Linked DNA regions of Homo sapiens: all the other regions are linked to region 1. Evidence: fine-mapped expression QTL. A gene starts in region 1. Each other region holds a variant in brackets. All regions are shown on one strand. Distances are from middle to middle.

The links. PIP is the estimated chance that this variant, and not a neighbour inherited with it, causes the effect. A credible set is the group of variants that fine-mapping cannot tell apart.
Region 2: its variant is the best candidate, but not a certain one, in a credible set for the expression of CCDC7 in thyroid (GTEx, PIP 0.69).
Region 3: its variant is the best candidate, but not a certain one, in a credible set for the expression of CCDC7 in minor salivary gland (GTEx, PIP 0.74).

What each region holds. Positions count from the first base shown.
Region 1 is chr10:32,443,936-32,448,180 of GRCh38, forward strand. CCDC7 (coiled-coil domain containing 7) reads left to right here and starts at 2,205. Exons shown (of 44, transcript NM_001395015.1): 1 at 2,205-2,462. It overlaps LOC101929431 (a long non-coding RNA gene), which reads right to left and starts at 2,121. Exons shown (of 3, transcript NR_120660.1): 1 at 1,678-2,121. RefSeq lists an enhancer at 1,756-2,075 and a silencer at 2,146-2,375.
Region 2 is chr10:33,071,445-33,075,689 of GRCh38, forward strand. All of the region lies in intron 2 of ITGB1-DT (ITGB1 divergent transcript), which reads left to right. It overlaps IATPR (ITGB1 adjacent tumor promoting lncRNA), which reads right to left. Exons shown (of 3, transcript NR_160030.1): 2 at 3,418-3,539; 3 at 2,582-2,802. Among named protein-coding and RNA genes, the nearest start is that of IATPR, 43 kb to the right of the region's middle. The variant G/A (reference allele first, on the strand shown) is at 1,994.
Region 3 is chr10:32,896,262-32,900,506 of GRCh38, forward strand. ITGB1 (integrin subunit beta 1) reads right to left here. Exons shown (of 16, transcript NM_002211.4): 16 at 4,057-4,245. Among named protein-coding and RNA genes, the nearest start is that of SNORA86, 3.1 kb to the right of the region's middle. The variant A/G (reference allele first, on the strand shown) is at 2,430.

The DNA.
Region 1 (4,245 bases):
TAATATGGTACATAATCTCCATTAATTTGGATCTTCTTTAATTTCTCTCAGTAATGTTATATAGTTTTCATTGTAGATGTCTGGAAATTGTATGTTGTCTGGGAATACAGCTTTATTTCTTTCATTGAAATCATTATGCCTTTATTTCTTTTTCTTGCCTTATTGCACTTGTTAAGACCTCCAGTATAATACTGAATAGACATAGTGAGAGCAAATATCCTTGCCTCCTTCCAATCTTAAGGAAAAATCAATTTTTCACTATTGAAAATGATGTTAGCTGGAGATAGTTCACAGATGTCCTTCATCAGATGAAAAAGTTCCTCTCTATTCATAAGTATTGTTTGTTTTCAAAGAATAATCGATTCATGTCACAGACTCAAACCACTGCAAAATTTGATATTACATGCTTAAATTTATTAACTTTTTAAACTTCTTTGCTTTACATTGTCAGCACTGATAACTTTTCTGTGGTTCTTAGCTGTGCTATTAAGGCCACAGATATGAATGGTGAACTTTTGGCTAGACTCATGCTGAGAGTTTTGCTAATGTATGCTAACTTGACAACTTGACCGTTAAGATTTTACCAACAAAATTAGAAATGACTAGATGTAATCTATTTTCAGGGTTCTAGAAAATAACTGAAATTGGCTTTGTCAAATCTAAGGTCTTCTTTAATCTCTCCTGACTTTTAGTTCTATCTTTCCTATCCCTTTCATTTACAACGGTTTTGGGAGATTTGGAATTTAGCAATTCAATTCTTTCTAAACTACTTTCTTAATTTTATTGCCAACTTTAAAAAATAAAAAATTGTTGGTGGAAAGCTTAATAAATCTGATCATTTATATGTACATTTTCTTTGTTACTGACATAAAACACACATACTGAAAAGTGCATAAATAAGCATATGCCTTCATGTTTTTTTTTTTTTTTCTTTTTTAGATGGAGTCTCGCTCTGTTGCCCAGGCTGGAGCGCAATGGCACAATCTCGGCTCACTGCAACCTCCACCTCCTGGGTTCAAGTGATTCTCCTGCCTCAGCCTCCTAAGTAGCTGGGATTACAGGCACCCGCCATCACGCCCGGCTAATTTTTGTATTTTTAGTAGAGATGGGGTTTCACCATGTTGGCCAGGCTAGTCTCGAACTCCTGACCTCGAGTGATGCACTGCCTCAGGCTCCCAAAGTGCTGGGATTACAGGTGCGAGCCACCACGCCCAGCCTGCCTTCATGAATTTTTGAACACACCCAGAAAGAGCAGAAGACAGAACATTTCTGGTACACCAGAAGATGTGTTGTTTTCCCTTTCCAGGCAACCCCAATGGTAACTCCTAGTGGTGTGATGGAGCTAGCCTACACCAGCTCTTGGGAGCTGATAAATTTTCAGGAATCTCTTGTGAGGCATTCAGATTTTACTGGAAAATTAGAAATAATTAGATATAATGAATTTTCAGAGTTTTAGAAAATAGTTGAAATCTACTAAGTCAAATCTAAGGTCTCCTTTAAACCTCCTGGTTTTTAGTTTTAGTTCCATCTTTCCTATTCCTTTCATTTACACACAGGCATTATTAACAGTTAAATTGTATCAATTAATATTTTAAAATATTAAAAACATTTTACTTCGTTCAACTTAAAGACAAAATTAATATATTTCTTGAGGTCAAATTATCTAAAAAACTCTACCTTGTAAAATTGCATCTTAAAGCAGTGCGTGGAAACTGATGGCAAGAAACCACTTAAGTGTCACAACTCTGCTTCAAGTTAATTCCTAGTCCATTTGATTTTGTTTTGCTTTTAAGATCACGAAGCTGGTGTACACTTCCGTGCGAGCTTAGAGTGGTAATGAACTCCACAATACACTGAAAAGAGCTTGAGGAGACAGCAGATGAAGGACTGGGGCTCTGGTTTTGTAGCTGAAGCCCAGGTTCTCAAAGGTCCTACCAGGCCTGTACTTTATTTCTCCTCCGCGGGCCTCTAGGCCAAATGCCTGGATGAATCTGCGCTCAGGGGGCGTCCTGGAATTACACTTGGGAGAGAATAAGAAAGGAGGAGGCCGATGTGCCCATGGACATTATTAACCTTCCGGCAAATCCCCACAGCCGCCAAACTGCGTCTCCTCTTCCGCTCTCGGCGCGCAGCTCACGCTCGCAGCGTCAGCGACGCCGGCGGCGCCAAGGCGTCGTGGCGTCGGGCGCCTGGGACGTGGCTTCAACGGCCCCATCCGGCGCCGGCGGCGGGTGCCCGGCGGTCTTTGCTGCCGCCCGGGGGCGCAGAGGCCGGGCCTTTTCTTTCAGCACAAACGTCAGTTTGTAAAAGGGAGGTGCTGGAGTCTGAGGAGTTTTCAGGCTTCCGTCTCGAAGGAAGTCTGGCAGGCTCGGAATTGTCATCTTCCTCAGGCAAATAGTTTTTCACCTTAGAGCCAGCAAGGCCAAACCGCCCAGTCACCCGACTTCCCACAGTCTCAGCAGGTACACAGGGCGGGGAGCCTCGGGAGCGGCTCCCTTAGCAGGACCTGAGGGTTTCGGGAGAGTCCTGGCTTTGCACTTAGTTTTCCCGCTGCCTGGCTGCCTCCGTGGCGGTTGTGCTGCTTTTTATGCAGGATGTAGGATCGAAGGCAAATCATCCTTTCCCTACGTCCCCTGCCAACCCCTGCCGCTCTCCTCTATTTTGTACACTTTATCATTAAAGGATTTGAAATGAATGTAAGTTAATCCTTGAAGGATGAAACCAGAAAACATTTGTCGTGGTGGCGGAAAGGGACGGATGCACTTGGGCGAAGTAATGCTGACATCCACTTCCTAGCATTGTTAGGAGGGATAAATGAATTAAATATGTAAAGTCCTTAAATATTTGCTTGCTAATACGAGTATTCATTGCGTGTGACTATTTTTGTATTTATGTGAACTTCATCGGAGCATTTGTCAGGTTCTTTTTTTTTGCACCAAGTGAGCGTTGCCTGCCTGCCTGCCTGCCTGCCTCCCTCCCTCCCTCCCTTCCTTCCTTCCCCTCTTCCCTTCCTCCCTCCCTCCCTCCCTCCCTCCCTCCCTCACACTTTTTTGGGGAGAGAGGACACAATGCAATCCATAACAGCATATACACTTGTTCTTTTTTCCATCGAACTTTCCTCTTGACCATGTTTTCTTCTAGTAATACTGTATTTCTTTACTCCCTTTTATAGTAAAATTTCTCTACAGTGCTTATATTCAATTCATTGTTCCTACTTCCTCTCTTTTGAACGGTAAGTCAGATATTTACCTCGATCATTCTACTGAAATTGTTGCCGTTCTTCAGGTTACAAATGACCTACCTCCATGTTGCCAAATCCAGTGTCAGCTTAGTCTTCATTTTACTTGACTCAGCATTTGACGTAGTTCATCACTCGGTCCTTGGTGATATTTTCTTTTCCTTGCTTTCTATGTATATATAACCTTTTGGTTTTACTTATTGGCTCATTGGCCACTCTTCTTACGTCCTGTTTCCTGGTCCTGATGGTTTTGATGGAATTTTTGATGTTTGCTTGGACCTGAAGGTTTTGATGGAGTTTCTTTGGCAATGTAATTTATTCAGAATTCTTTTGAGGCTTTTCAATTTTGTAAATTTAATCTTGGTTTCTGCATCATTTTGCTTGTATCATTAATTTTTACTGAAAGCATCGTGTCACAATCGGCATGAGAAAAATGTAAAAGGGAGCAGGGCGCACAGTGGCTCAGGCGTGTAATCCCAGCACTTTGGGAGGCTGAGGTGGGAGGATCACCTGAGGTCAGAAGTTCGAGACCAGCTTGGCCAACGTGGTGAAACCCTGTCACTATTAAAAATACAAAAATTAGCCGGACGTGGCAGTGGGCACCTGTAATCCCAGCTACTTGGGAGGCTGAGGCAGGAGAATCGCTTGAACCTGGGAGGCAAAGTTTGCAGTGAGCAAGATTGTGCCATTGTACTCCAGCCTGGGCGACAAGAGCGAAACTCTGTCTCAAAAAAACGAAAAATGTAAAAGGGAATATTTTGCAGGGGCTTTGGTTCAAGTTCTATAATGTGTTTATTTACTATTATCATCAGTAATTTCCAAGAGAGCATTGTGTTCTTCCTTCAAATGGATTTTTAGTGACAAGTTATTTTTGCAAAGTCATATTTGATTATGATTTAAAAATTATGCTTGGCAACTATGCATTCAGTTAACTATAGTGTTAACTATAGTGTTTCATCGAAACAAAAAAGCAGTTGTATAATTCTTGGATGAAATAAACATTTTCA
Region 2 (4,245 bases), 630 kb after region 1:
TCCTACTTCAGTGATTCTCTGCCAAGTCTTTTATACTCCTCTCAAGCTCTGTGTTTGATTAGAATACTTTCATTCCTTGAACTCAGACACTTCTTGGAGGGGGATCTTGCTGATTAGTTTGATGTCATGTGGCCCTGTCAACATTCCTTCATCTTTGCTGTTTTTTTTTTTTTTTTTTTTTTTTTAAATACCAAATGAAGGTGCACTTAGGTACGGAACTCTCTCTCTGGGTGGTGCTCCTTCCCTGGTCTCCTGTAGGGTTGGACCGGAACGCTCTCGGTGTTCACTTCTAGGGTCAGAACACATCTGGAGCAGGATTATGAAGCAGCATTTCCCCTGCAATCTGTCAAACTCGCCAACAACTAGAGAAATCACCCTGATTCCTGAGAGAGATTACCAGGAAGCCTTTTTCAGGGGCAGACGGGGTTATTTTGCCAGTGTAGCAGAAAAAAGGTAAATAACAGGTGTAAACCAAAAATAAAATTCTAAGCCTCCAGAATGACTAAATGGATCTCCCTCTTGGCCGAGGCATTCCAAAGTAAACCTGAAAAACTAGTTCAAGCTGTGATGGGAAGAGGGGCTTGTTGGATAGACCTCCTTATGCCCTCCTCCCTTTGGAATTCAGGCTCAACTGACCAGGGTTAACATTAAAACAGAGATCTTAGGACTGACAAAGCAGACTCTTTGTAGTGGGAAGACACCAAATTCCAACCTGACTCTAGTATAGCATCATAGGACAGATGGCAGGCCCTGAAAGACACTGAAGTATTTTACTCCAAAATAGATTTCTTTGACATCTTTTTAAATGGCCCTGAAAAACTGTCTTTTGTGAGGAAATCTACATTCTGTAGAGAATCCTCTTCCCTTTCTAGGTCTTTACCTCATCTGGGAGATATTTAACTAAGGGTTCGGCAAGTTTTTAGGTCTGATAAAAGACATTTGTTCTCTATTCTCTCTACAGCCTAGAGGCTTCATTTGCATAATGAAATCCCTGGTCTTCACAACCCCTTATCTTAACCTAGAAGACTTTCCTTTCTGTTGATTCCAGGTCTTTGGATAATAACTTAACGCTTTCAACTGATTGGCAATCAGAACATTTTTGAATCCACTATGACCTGGAAGCCATACCCACTCTCCCAGCCTGTCCCCCACAACTGCTTCCAGACCCAACCAATGTACACCTTACATGTATTAATTGATGTCTGCCTACAACTTCTGTCTCTCTAAAAGATATAAAATTAAGCTGTAACCCAACCACCTTGGGCACATGTTCTCAGGACCTCTTGGGGCTGTGTCACGGGCCTTGGTCACTCATATCTGACTCAGAATAAAGCTTCTGAAATATGTCACAGAGTTTAACTCTTTCCATTGACACAGGTGAGTTTGTGTTGCCCACTGCTTGTTATGTGTTACAGTAAGAACGAGATGATCCATTTGCAGAGCTTTGCCTTTTCTGTGGCCAGGTGGGCAGCTGAAGAGACTTGACATGTAGGCCAGTCATTCCATCTGTTCCCAACTCTTTCAGCCTCCTTCTGGGATCCTGTTTTTCCTGCCATCACCCAGCTGAACCCAGACTTTATTCTTTTATAACACACCCCCAGCACACAAATTTATGCACCTACACCAAATTCACTTGCCAGCCACCTCGTTCAATAGCTGTGAATATTTCTGTAGCCTCTTTCTTTTGTGAACTGCAAATAATGACCAGCCTAGTCTCTATGGTTATATTTAGGGGGAAAAGATTCTCTGTAGTAGATTTCTTTTATTAATTAATGTTCTATTTTTTCCATTCACTGATACCCTACATTTTATAGCTTCTAGGAAAATTATACTTGGTACAGTACTTTGACCCTAAATGTGTCCATGTGCAGGAAATAGTACAGTAATTGACACCCAGTTAGTGTTTAGTTAATCGTAGTTCTAAATTATGTGTCTAATGAAGAAAATTTGGAAATCACTTTGCTTAAGAATAAGGAAGTTTTGCAGGGCAAAT[G/A]TATTAGTCTGTTCTCACGCTACTAATAAAGACATACTGGAGACTGTGTAATTTATAAAAAAAGAGGTTTAATGAACTCATGGTTCCTTATGGCTGGGGAGGCCTCACAATCATGGCGGAAGATGAAGGAAGAGCAAAGGGACTTCTTACATGGCAGCAGGCAACAGAGCTTGTGCAGGAGAACTCTTGTTTATAAAACCATCAGATCTCGTGAGACTTCACTCCCTATCATGAGAACAGCATGAGGGTAACCACACCCATGATTAAATTACCTCCCACTGGGTCCCTGCCACGACAAGTGGGGATTATGGGAACTACAATTCAAGATGAGATTTGGGTGAGGACACAGCCAAACCATATTAGCAAACATTTGAGCAAATGTGCTATCAACATTAAGAAGACCAACATCTAGGAGGCAGCACAGAGCTAATGCAAGAGCATTACACTTGGAGTCAGGATTGCTAAGAGCTCCTTGCAGATCTGCTACTGGGTGACTTGCAGATCTGCTACTGGGTAACTTCTCTGGGCCTCAGTTTCCTCATGTGTAAAACCAAGAGGACTGGCAGAAACACTAGCGGAGAGCCCTTCCGGCTCTAAGTCTGTGACACTTTGATGGCTCTTGTTCCTGGATGAAGGGACACCACTGGGAGAAATTTCTTCCTCCATAAGTCAACAAATTGGAATTAAAGTGCCTATGATTCCCTCCGTGAAGTTCGGTGCTGCCAACGATCACGATTCTCATGAACTCAATAAATTGTGCAATATTCTGGAAACAGCTGCCTCTCAGGGGTGGTGTTTAAGTCATCCAACTGGGAAAACAGAGGACACAAAATAATCGTAAAATGGTTTCAGGGAGACATAAGACTGACAGAAATAGAATCCCTGCTCTTTCTGGAATCGAACACTGCTGTTGCACCACAATTTCTGTGAGTTGGACCTAAAAGGAATGTCTTTACTTTTCAGGACTTGCTTTTTGTTCCTTAAAGAGCCAGGGAAATATGAAAGCAATCGATTTCTTCAGAATTCCAAAAGAAAGATATTGCTGTTTGCAAGACAAAGAAAAAAATTAAATGGAGATGGCAGCCTGTGTGTGCTGTTCCCTTCAGCAACGAGCAAACTGTGACCCAATTTGCAAGCCCTTGCAGGTTTGCAGGGTAGACCCTGGCGCTATCTCTTCCCATTAGTTTCTCTGGCAGTAGGACTGGCTGGGAGAAATTGGCTCAGTAGTACATCAGTAGTTATATTACACAGCAGCTGTGGAAAATTATTAAACTAACAGAGAGACAAATGGCTTGGGAGAGAATAAAGTTAGCAAGTCTGGAAACCCCCATTACAGTACATTATGTTGAGTTCCTTCTCCCTCTAGATTAAGACCCTGGTTCCTAAATGAGAATCCAAATTACAGCTAAACTTACTTTACTTACCTGTCTTCTTTTAAATTTGTTTCTCATTTTTCTTTGGCCAGTTAGAGATCATAGAACACTGTCCCATCTTATGCCATTTCTTTCCTCTTTGGTCTTGGACCATCTCTTCCTCTGTGCTGTCACTGGAGATATACAATTACACACGTTCAATCTCATGTGTTCCTCATACACACACACACTCATGTGGATACCCTGATATTCACTCTGCACACACATGCTCACATGCAAACACACCCTGTCTCACACACACTCATGGATGTGCACACACACTTTTGCACAATTTTTTTTTTTGAGATGGAGTCTTGCTCTGTTGCCCAGGCTGGAGTGCAGTGGCAGGATCTCGGCTCACTGCAACCTCCACCTCTCAGGTTCAAGTGATTCTCCTGTCTGAGCCTCCCTAGTAGCTGGGATTATAGGCTCGAGCCACCACGCCCAACTAATTTTTGTATTTTTAGTAGAGACAGGGTTTCACCATGTTGGCCAGGCTGGTCTTGAACTCCTGACCTCAAGTGATCCGCCTACCTCGGCCTCCCAAAATGCTGGGATTATAGGCATGAGCCACTGTGCCCGGTACATTTGCACACATTTTTGAGACTCCAGTGTCTGGGCTCTGGTTGAAAGGCCACTCTGAATTTTTTTCCACTCTCTGTGGTAGTTGGAACTATGTCTACTCCCAAGAGTTCAGACCACTCTGTTGAGAGTTCAGCATGTTTGTAAATGTAATTGGTTTATTAAACGGTATGAATTTAGTGAGAAACACACAAGAAGTATTTATTTTTCCTCCAAATGCAACCTTACAATATGTTCTGTTGAATCTGCATTTCATTT
Region 3 (4,245 bases), 450 kb after region 1:
TTATCAGATATATAATTTACAAGTATTTTCTCCCATTCTGTAGGTTGCCTTACTTTTTTGATAATGTCCTTTGATGCACAAATATTTTTAATTTTGATGAAGTCCAATTTATGTTTTATCTTTTGTTATTTATGCTTTTGGTGTCTTGTCTAAGAACCCTTTGCCAAATTAAAGGTCATGAAGTACACTCCTATGTTTCTTCTAAAAGTCTGATGGTTTGAGTTCTTATGTTTAGATATGTCACTGATCCATTTTGAGTAAATTTTTGTATATGGTGAGAGTTAGGGGTCCAGCTTCACTCTTTTGCTTGTGGAAATCCAGTTATTCCAGCATCATCTGTTGAAAAGATTTTTCTTTCCCCATTGAACAAACTTGGAAACCTTGTCACACATCAATTGGTCACAGGTGTATGGCTTAGACAACTCCTGAGTTGTAAAAGGAAAGAGAGAAACAGAGATGGTAACTATGGTATGTTTGTTACTGAGGGGAATGACCCAGAAGAGGGGAAAACTTGATGATGCAGGAGAGGAGAGAACTGCTTGTCTTAGCAGGCAAGAGGTGATGGAGTTTGGAAGACGAATACAAGTGGAAGGTCTGCCCTTGGAGAGTTTATCTATAAGAACTGGCAGGAAGGCCAGTATGTCACTGCAGATGCTAACAGGTAGGTGGGCATGGTAGCAAATTACAGAAATGAATCCATCTACTCAACAAATACTTACTGGTCACCTACACCTTACTTTGTGCCAGATGTTGTTCTAAGGATACAATTGGTATTTTCAGCCATTTAAACTTTAGCCATTCTAGTGGGTATCTAATGGTATCTCATTGTGATTTTAATTTGCATTTCCATTTTTTTCTTTTTTGCCATTCATCTTCTCTGATGAAGTATCTGTTCCGTTCTGTTCTGAGGGTTCTCTGGTGAACCCTCATACATTGCTGGTGGGAATGTAAAATGGTGCAGCCACTGTGGAAAACAGTTTGGCAGTTCCTCAAAGAGCAAAACACAATTACTATATGATCCAGCAATTCTTCTTTTAGGCATATAATGAAAAGAACTGAAGGTATGAACTTGAACAGATACTTATATGACAATATTTATTGCAGCATTATTCGTAAGAGCCAAAAGGTGGAAACACCCCAAGTGTCCATTGAAAACTGAATGGATAAATATGCTATACGCAGGCAATGGAATATTTAGCCATAAAAGGAGTCTAGTTCTGATACATGCTACAACATGCATGGACCTTAAAAATGTTCTGCAAAGTGAAGTATGCAGACAGTGAATCAAAACACAGGTCCCTGTGCTCATGGAGCTACCACATTTAAGGATAAGAAAGAAATATCAAACACAAAGGACTATGGTAGGCTTGAGGATCTGAAAGTTGAACTGGACTGGGGATGTTTGGGCAATATCATCAAATTTACATTTAAAATGGCTGCTAAGGGGCCAGTCAGTGGTTATTGTAGAAAATCTGAATGTTTATCTCCCAGGAATAATTTTGGACAGTAAGCAACATTAGTATAAGTTTTCAACATTTAAAGTCAATAGATCAACTACTGCAGATAAAACTGAAGACAAGTCTTCTGTAAACTTGCAATAAAGCAATGGATTAAATTCTGGGATTTAAATCTTCTGAATAGTGTTTCCTCTCTCAAAGTGATCCATAAGTAACGTGTTTATATGTCAGTCTATTTTAGAATCCGGAATAAGTAGAAAGTCAAATAAAATTTATTATCACTGATGACTTTTTATGGAAACTCTATACCCTCAAAAATTTAAAATCTTAATTAAAAGTACAGTGAAGACTTAATTGTAGAAGCAAATGAAGGTAAGAATTGCCGTATCAGTGAACTTAGTATTTGTCTCATGGTTCTCCTACCATTTTTGTACCCTAAAGGTTCACACTTAGATGACATACCACCCTCAGAGCAGTGGAGACTTGATGGGCTACTTAATCTAGACCTAATCCACCTTGAAAATCTGCTCCCACTCATCACTCAGAAGCCACTTCCACCTATCCCTAAATTCTCAGAAGAATCCTGAGTCATGAGAGAAATTCTAAAGAGCCAGTGAAGGATCTTTATAGGCTCAAAAGGAGTCCTGGGGAGATACTCATTCTGTTTCTGAACTTCTTTGAGCATATCAGATCAGAAATATCTAGGCCTTAATGAAGTCATGTCTTTCGCAGTGACATGGATGGATCACCCTAAGTGAAACAATTCAGAAACAGAAAATCAAATATCACATGTTCACTCATAAGTGAAAGCTAAACAGTGGGTAAACATGGACATACAAAGGGAAAGAACAGACTCCCGGGACTCCAAAAGGGAGAGGGTAGTAGGAGGGTGAAAGGTGGAAAATTACCTATTGACTATAATGGCCACTACTAAGGTGATGGGTACACTAGAAGCCATTATGCAACATGTCC[A/G]TGTAACACACCTGCACATGTACCCCTGGAATCTACAAAAATGAACATTTAAAAATGTAAACATTAAGCCTCCAAGGAATAAACTAAAGACAAATGGCCTCTACTCAAGGTTATCTCTCAAACTGTAGTGAAAAACAGAAAGGAAAAATTCCAGGTTCAAACAAAAAGCTGATCACAGGTGACTTTTTAAGTGGTATTATGAACTGTTCTTGTGGCTCAAGGTCTTACCTGGGTGCCTGTTTTAAGGAAATTCATAAAGTAAGACTGGAAAAGAGTAAGAAAACTTTTAAAATGTCATGGAATCACTGTAAAATATGCCACTATTTGGCATTAGCCAAACAATGTACTCATGATACTTAATATTTTGTAAATTTCTATAGTATAGTTTAAATGGAAAAAAAAGTTCTAATTGTTGTTTTGCTTCCTGGACTCTTGCTTTTTGGAAAGTGTCTCACTGGAGATCAAAATGTACTCCTGCTGGGAGAATAAGTATTTTAGTGACCAAGTTCTATGTGGCTTCAGTCAAAGCATCTCAATGTGTGGTGTGTGTATCTACATAGAGATAGATATACTATTATCAATTTCTCAGACTATATTTTGAAATTGCCAGTTTCAAGCCTAGAATTACTCAAATGTCAAATTGAGTCTTCCGATTTAAGTATTTTAGGCTCTTATAATCAGCATGAGAAATAAACTTGTATACAATTCCTCCAACTTCCAACAAAGGGATTCCTATAGAAAATCTTTTTGTCTGCTATAAATTGTAATATAAAATCTAAAAATTCACCACATTCCAGCCTCAAACACGTGTTTGGAAAAAAAAATTATGTACATATAGAAGATAGACTTTGTTACTTTGTTCTAATATATTTTTAAAATATCATTATAAGAGCAGAGTTCTGGAGCAGAAATATGCAATTCAACTATTGATTATGCCTAAGGCACAGGGAAATGAATTAAGCTAAGTGGAATTATGGATGGTGGAAAACAAGATGAAACAGGGTGACAGAGAGTAATAAATACAGATAATTTTTTTCATGGATCTTACAAACTACTAAAAATGTGTAATTCTCACCTCAAATATGCTTTAGTCTAAGCTATGAAACACATTTAAATGGAGTAAGTAAAAGAAGATTAACAGGATGTGAAGGGATTGTATAAATGTGAAAGGCTAGTAAGGCTGAAACTTTTTCTCCTCCAAATATTTCTGACATTTGTTGTATGCTTAAGAAAGCAGCATATATTTCTTCTAATAAGCTTTACACAAGTAGTACTTATGGATATATCCTTTCAAACAGAAACCAAAGCCAAATAAAAGTAAAATTTTTCCTAATTTTTCTTATCAGAAAAGTTAACAATCCCCTATCTATATCTTAAATAAAATGATACAATTTCCAGCACCTACTAATGGCTCTAAGATGTTCATAAAGTTAATTCTGCTTAATATTGGGATGAAACCTCTCTCCCAGCGTAGCAGGATAAGTAAGGATCTATCCACCATGATTCAGAGAGCCCAAGGACAGTCTTCAAGTCTGTATTTCACCATACCACTCTCCTTATGTCCCTAGTACATTTTTTTAAAGAATTATGTTTTAGCTTCATAAGTGAACTACCCACCAACCAGAAATGCTTTTCCTCAACTTCTTTAATCTATAAAAATTTCATGCACACAACCTGATAAAATACATCAGAGTCAAGACATCCGATTTAAGTATTTTAGGCATATTTAATAAATAACTTCAGTAAATAGCACTGTAAAAAGTGAACTGTTAAAACTAAAGGCACTTAAAACAAGAATGTGACTAGTGTGAAACAA